Regions from separate parts of the Homo sapiens genome. Here region 1 is linked to region 2. The links come from fine-mapping of genetic effects on gene expression. A gene starts in region 2. The other region holds a variant in brackets. All regions are shown on one strand. Distances are between the middles of the regions. Region 1 overlaps KLHL33 (kelch like family member 33). Region 2 holds the start of OSGEP (O-sialoglycoprotein endopeptidase).

Region 1 (2,912 bases), 29 kb before region 2:
AAGATGGGGTCTCACTATGTTATCCAGGCTGGACTCGAACTCCTGAGCTAAAGCAATCCTCCCACCTCAGCCTTCTGAGGAGCTGGAACTATGGGCATGTAGCACGGTGCCTGGCACTTTTTCATTCTTTTGATTGAACATTGTTGCTTCTACAACCCAGAGTGTCTGTCTGGGTAAGTAATAATTCTTGGTTTCACAGCTAGTGAAATTTTCATATAAATTTGCTCTTCTATTTTTTTAAACCTTCCTTGCTATCAATTTTCCATATATTATTATTATTAATTTGAGACAGAGTCTCACTCTGTCACCCAGGCTGGAGTGCAGTGGTGCAATCTCAGCTCACTGCAACCTCCGTCTCCCGGGTTCAAACAATTCTCGTGCCTCAGCCTCCCATGTAGCTGGGATTACAGGTATGTGTCACCACACCTGGCTAAAAATTTTCCGTATATATTATATTTAACACAGAAAAGATTGGGAGAAGACACTAAGTCAGTTTTTCTTTGGGTAGTCCAGTATTACATGATGAGTCAAGTAAAGAAGAAAAGATAAAGGAAAATAAGCTCAAGAGGATTCCAAAGCTTCAGGCCCAGGAAATAGGAGAAATGATAGTGCCAATAAAGCATGAGGAATCTGAACTAATGATGCTGGCACATCTAAATGGAGGTGAGAATCACTGAAAAAAATCAGACTAGAACCCAGGCGAACCATCAAGGTTGGAGACAGAGGAGAGGTGAGCTTCCTGACAGGGAGCATAAAACAAAGGAAAGGAAGAACGTGAGCAACCCAGCCAGGACTAGGCACAGGAGACAAGTGATACCTAGAGTCCCACACACTTACTTGTACTAAACATTAACCTGCATGTCCAGTCCTACCCAGTACCTGAGTCAACCTTGGAAAGATAAGAGAGATATCAGAAATTTCACCCTCACCAGCAAAGGGGGTGGAGGGAAGACTGTTGGGGGAGCTATTAGAGAGCATCTAGAACACCTTGGCTTATCATCTGATTCACCAAAGGTAAGAATCCCAGGCCTCTACAGTCATCAAACTAGTCTTGCCAGGTCACCACCACGGCTGCCCAATCTGTATGCATAGTTTCTATCCCAATTCCTACTTCTCACTCCACTTCCCTTCTGGGGTTGAAATGTTACCCTGATATTACCCTATTCTTAGTCTGCCTGGCTGAAGACCCAGACTGTTACCTTGCCTATATTCAGTCCCTTCTCACTGATGAATGGACTATTGACTAGGGTCCTCCTTCAAGTCAGAGGTCTCCTCTCTCCTCACTCTTCCCTCAGTTTTAAAGACAAATAATGAAAGTCAGAACTTTCTGCAATGAACCACCCTCATCCACATACCTGTGGATCCTTGGCTATCAGCTCCAAGGATGAAGCCACACCCCCCTGGACACTTTGATCTGGCTTACTGGATTTTGGATTGGAGAAATAAGAGAAGGTCCATCCAGGAGAGTGTGCTATCTCTAAAGCCAGAAGAAGAGAAATTTTTAGGGTAAGAGCCAGTTTTCACGCCAATCAGTTCCTGTAGAAAGATGAAAGAGAATGAAGATGGCCACAGATTGTTAGATTTGGTAAGAAGCAGGTCACAGTAACAGTGGAGGGAGAT[G/A]ATTTCAATCATGTGGTAGACCTAGAAGGCAGAATACAGGGAATTTTATTTTGAATGCTTTTTATAGTAGAGAAACTCAGATAAGAAAGATTCAGTCACTATGAAACCTTTATTTAAGTCTGCCTTTAGGTACAAATCACAAAAAATGTTCATAGAAGTTCATCCAGAGAGCTTGTCATCTCCTTCAATTTCCTTCTTCCCGTTCTTTATTCTTCCTTCTCTTTTCTCTTATACATCCTACTTACCCCTTCTCATTTTCAATTACATTCCTAGTCTATCTTAAATAGAGATACAGAAAAAGATCTTACTAAAATAACGAAATCTAAAAATAAATAAATAAAATACATGCCAAGTACTTCTGGGGCCAGAATGAAGAAGGGTGCAAGGGAGACTCCATCATCACCCTTAGAAACATGAAAATCTTAATAAACAATGGTAATAGAAAACTGACCTACACAGGCCGGGCATTGTGGCTCACGCCTGTAATCCCAGCACTTTCGGAGGTCGAGGTGGGTGGATCACCTGAGGTCGGGAGTTCAAGACCAGCCTGACCAACATGGAGAAACCCCGTCTCTACTAAAAATACAAAATTAGCCAGATGTAATAGCTGTAATCCCAGCAACTCAGGGAGGCTGAGGCAGGAGAATCACTTGAACTCAGGAGGAAGAGTTTGCGGTGAGCTGAGATCACGCCATTGCACTCCAGCCTGGGCAACAGAGTAAAACTCTGTCTCAAAAAAAAAAAAAAAAAAAAGAAAAAGAAAATTGACAACAGGTGCTGGAGAGGATGTGGAGAAATAGGAACACTTTTACACTGTTGGTGGGACTGTAAACTAGTTCAACCATTGTGGAAGTCAGTGTGGCGATTCCTCAGGGACCTAGAACTAGAAATACCATTTGACCCAGCCATCCCATTACTGGGTATATGCCCAAAGGAATATAAATCATGCCGCTATAAAGACACATGCACACATATGTTTATTGCATCACTATTCACAATAGCAAAGACTTGGAACCAACCCAAATGTCCAACAATGATAGACCGGATTAAGAAAATGTGGCACATATACACCATGGAATACTATGCAGCCATAAAAAATGATGAGTTCATGTCCTTTGTAGGGACATGGATGAGATTGGAAATCATCATTCTCAGTAAACTATCGCAAGGACAAAAAAACCAAACACCGCATGTTCTCACTCATAGGTGGGAATTGAACAATGAGAACACGTGGACACAGGAAGGGGAACATCACACTCTGGAGAATGTTGTGGGGTGGGGGGAGGGGGGAA
Region 2 (2,912 bases):
TATTTCTAGTGAGTATCTGTCACAACATCACCTGTTCAGGGAGGCTTTTCAGATACATGCAAGTCAGCTGCCCTCTCCTATGTATGCAAGTGTTTGAGGGGAGAGTAGCAAGATATAATAGCTTATTTAAAATATCAATTAAAAGTTGTAATGTGTTTTGTACTTTTTTTTTTTTTGAGACAGAGTTTCACTCTTGATGCCCAGGCTGGAGTGCAATGGCACCATCTCGGCTCACTGCAACCTCTGTCTCCCGGGTTCACGCAATTCTCCTGCCTCAGCCTCCCAAGTAGCTGGGTTTACAGGCATGCGCCACCACGCCCAGTTAATTTTTTGTATTTTTTAGTGGAAACATGGTTTCTCCATGTTGGTCAGGCTGGTCTCGAACCCCGACCTCAGGTGATCTGCCTGCCTTGGCCTCCCAAAGTGCTGGGATTACAGGCGTGAGCCACCACGCCCAGCCGTGTTTGGTACTTTCATCTAATCTTCAAGACCTAATGATACAGGTATTATTCCCATTTTAAAAACAAAGACCAGGCCCGAGCGGTGGCTCATGCCTGTAATTTCCACACTTTGGGAGGCTGGGGTGGGCGGATCATCTGAGGTCAGGAGTTCGAGACCAGCTTGGCCTGGTGGAAACCCCGACTCTACTAAAAATACAAAATTTAGCTGGATGTGGTGGCGCACACCTATAGTCCTAGCTACTTGGGAGGCTGGGGTAGAAGAATCGCTTGAACCTGGAAGGCAGAGATTGCAGTGAGCCGAGATCGTGCCACTGCATTCCAGCCTGGGCGACAGAGCAAGACTCTGTCTCAAAAAAATAAAATAAAATAAAAAATAAAGACCAAATGTCCAAAACAAAAATATTTAATATGAATATAGCAAAGCCAGCCAGTTCTGTCTGACATGTAAGCCGGGAGTCTTTCCACTCTCATCTCTCTACTCATCCTAGAATATTTCAAAAAATAATTTTTTTTTAAAAAGGGAGTGTATATTCAGGGCAACTGGAATCTATACTCCTGCTAAGCGTTTTTTAAACAGAATATTTCGAGTCCATCTCTATTATACTGTTTATCATGCTGTAGTATAAACATCTATTTATATGTCTGACTCCACAGCAGTATAACATCTATTTCTGAATACTTAGCACATAAAATGCGCTCAGTAAAAGGTAAATGAACTCATCAGATCCACGTCCAAGTGCCTGTAACTCTTCTAGTCATCAGCCTTGTGACGTTAATAATGTCACATAATTTCAATGAGACTCGGATCGAAAGCTGCACCTCACTAGTATTTAGGAAGATGGAAGGCTGATTCTGTGCGGGGAAGTGCGCGGAAAACTCTTAAGTCCCCTACTCACCAACCTGTGCCAGGAGGCGTGACGTAAGTCCGCCGCGGGTTCGCCAGCACCTTGCCATCCCGCACCACGCCCACGCCAATCTTATTGGCGCTGCCTTCAAAACCCAGCACCGCCGGCATGGCGGAGGCTGGGAGAAAACGCCGACAGGACTCCTGGCAATGTCAGGAGCTGTGGAGGTCCTCACTAGTCCGCGCTGGGCCGCAGCTTTCCGGAGCGCAGAGGAAGCTGGCCAGCCTGCAGATAGCACTGGGAAAGACACCGCGGAACTCCCGCGAGCGGAGACCCGCCAAGGCCCCTCCAGGGACCTGTCTTCCTAACTGCCAGGGACGCCGAGCCAACTCTGTGCCTTACATTCGTATCCGTTTTCCTATCTCTTTCCCGTGGTCCAGCCCAGCCTTCTCCACTGTTTTTTTCCCTCTTGCACATAGTTAGAATCTTAAGTCAGTGTCACACAATGTGCTGTGCATCTGGCACAACGATAAACAGCCCGAGGGAGGGTTGGGGACCTAAGTGTCCTAGAGAATTAGAGGAGGGAGGCGAGGCTAAGCGTCTCCGTCACGTGGTGTCAGACAGACCAATCACGCGCATTCTTCGGCCACGACAAGCGCGCCTCTGATCACGTGACCAGGTCCGCTACCCACGTGGGGGCTCAGCGTGCACCCTTCTTTGTGCTCGGGTTAGGAGGAGCTAGGCTGCCATCGGGCCGGTGCAGATACGGGGTTGCTCTTTTGCTCATAAGAGGGGCTTCGCTGGCAGTCTGAACGGCAAGCTTGAGTCAGGACCCTTAATTAAGATCCTCAATTGGCTGGAGGGCAGATCTCGCGAGTAGGGTACAAGGCACTATGAAATGATCTAGTTTCGTGGGTGAGGGGCTGAAGGGCCTATGATGCACGGAGGCGGGGAAAGGATTTAGAGATAACGTGGTTTGAAAGGCGGGACCTGGTGCGGGGACGCTCTTGGGAGGAGTCTTCTCCCCAGCCTTAGCTGGTTTCATGATTTCTTTGCGTCTGTAGGCAACGCGGTAAAAATATTGCTTCGGTGGGTGACGCGGTACAGCTGCCCAAGGGCGTTCGTAACGGGAATGCCGAAGCGTGGGAAAAAGGGAGCGGTGGCGGAAGACGGGGATGAGCTCAGGACAGGTAAGGGAATGAAATCAGCCCTTCTTCCTAGAAGCTGCGGCGGGGGTGTTTGTCATTCCCTTGATGTACGGTAAGTACGGGCCGACTCATTTTTGCAGGGGTTTGTGAAGAAGTCGCAGGAACCGTAGGCTTTCGTTGGGTCTATAGTTAACGCCGGATCGCAGTTGGAAACCACCAGCTTTTTGTCAGTATATATTACTCATTTTATAGAGCCAGAGGCCAAGAAGAGTAAGACGGCCGCAAAGAAAAATGACAAAGAGGCAGCAGGAGAGGGCCCAGCCCTGTATGAGGACCCCCCAGATCAGAAAACCTCACCCAGTGGCAAACCTGCCACACTCAAGATCTGCTCTTGGAATGTGGATGGGCTTCGAGCCTGGATTAAGAAGAAAGGATTAGATGTGAGTGGAATTTGAGGG

The links. PIP is the estimated chance that this variant, and not a neighbour inherited with it, causes the effect.
Region 1: its variant is the best candidate, but not a certain one, in a credible set for the expression of OSGEP in whole blood (INTERVAL, PIP 0.72).

The regions. Positions count from the first base shown.
Region 1 is chr14:20,424,142-20,427,053 of GRCh38, forward strand. It overlaps KLHL33 (kelch like family member 33), which reads right to left. Exons shown (of 5, transcript NM_001365790.2): 5 at 1,711-2,912. Among named protein-coding and RNA genes, the nearest start is that of KLHL33, 11 kb to the right of the region's middle. The variant G/A (reference allele first, on the strand shown) is at 1,621.
Region 2 is chr14:20,453,208-20,456,119 of GRCh38, forward strand. OSGEP (O-sialoglycoprotein endopeptidase) reads right to left here and starts at 1,605. Exons shown (of 11, transcript NM_017807.4): 1 at 1,362-1,605. The coding sequence starts at 1,476. APEX1 (apurinic/apyrimidinic endodeoxyribonuclease 1) reads left to right here and starts at 2,019. Exons shown (of 5, transcript NM_001641.4): 1 at 2,019-2,187; 2 at 2,371-2,496; 3 at 2,707-2,894. The coding sequence starts at 2,439. RefSeq lists a silencer at 1-255, promoters at 1,518-1,962, 1,592-2,129, 1,794-2,128, enhancers at 1,553-1,642, 2,063-2,282 and cis regulatory regions at 1,589-1,919, 1,850-2,005, 1,876-1,917, 1,914-1,919, 1,930-1,962 and 2 more.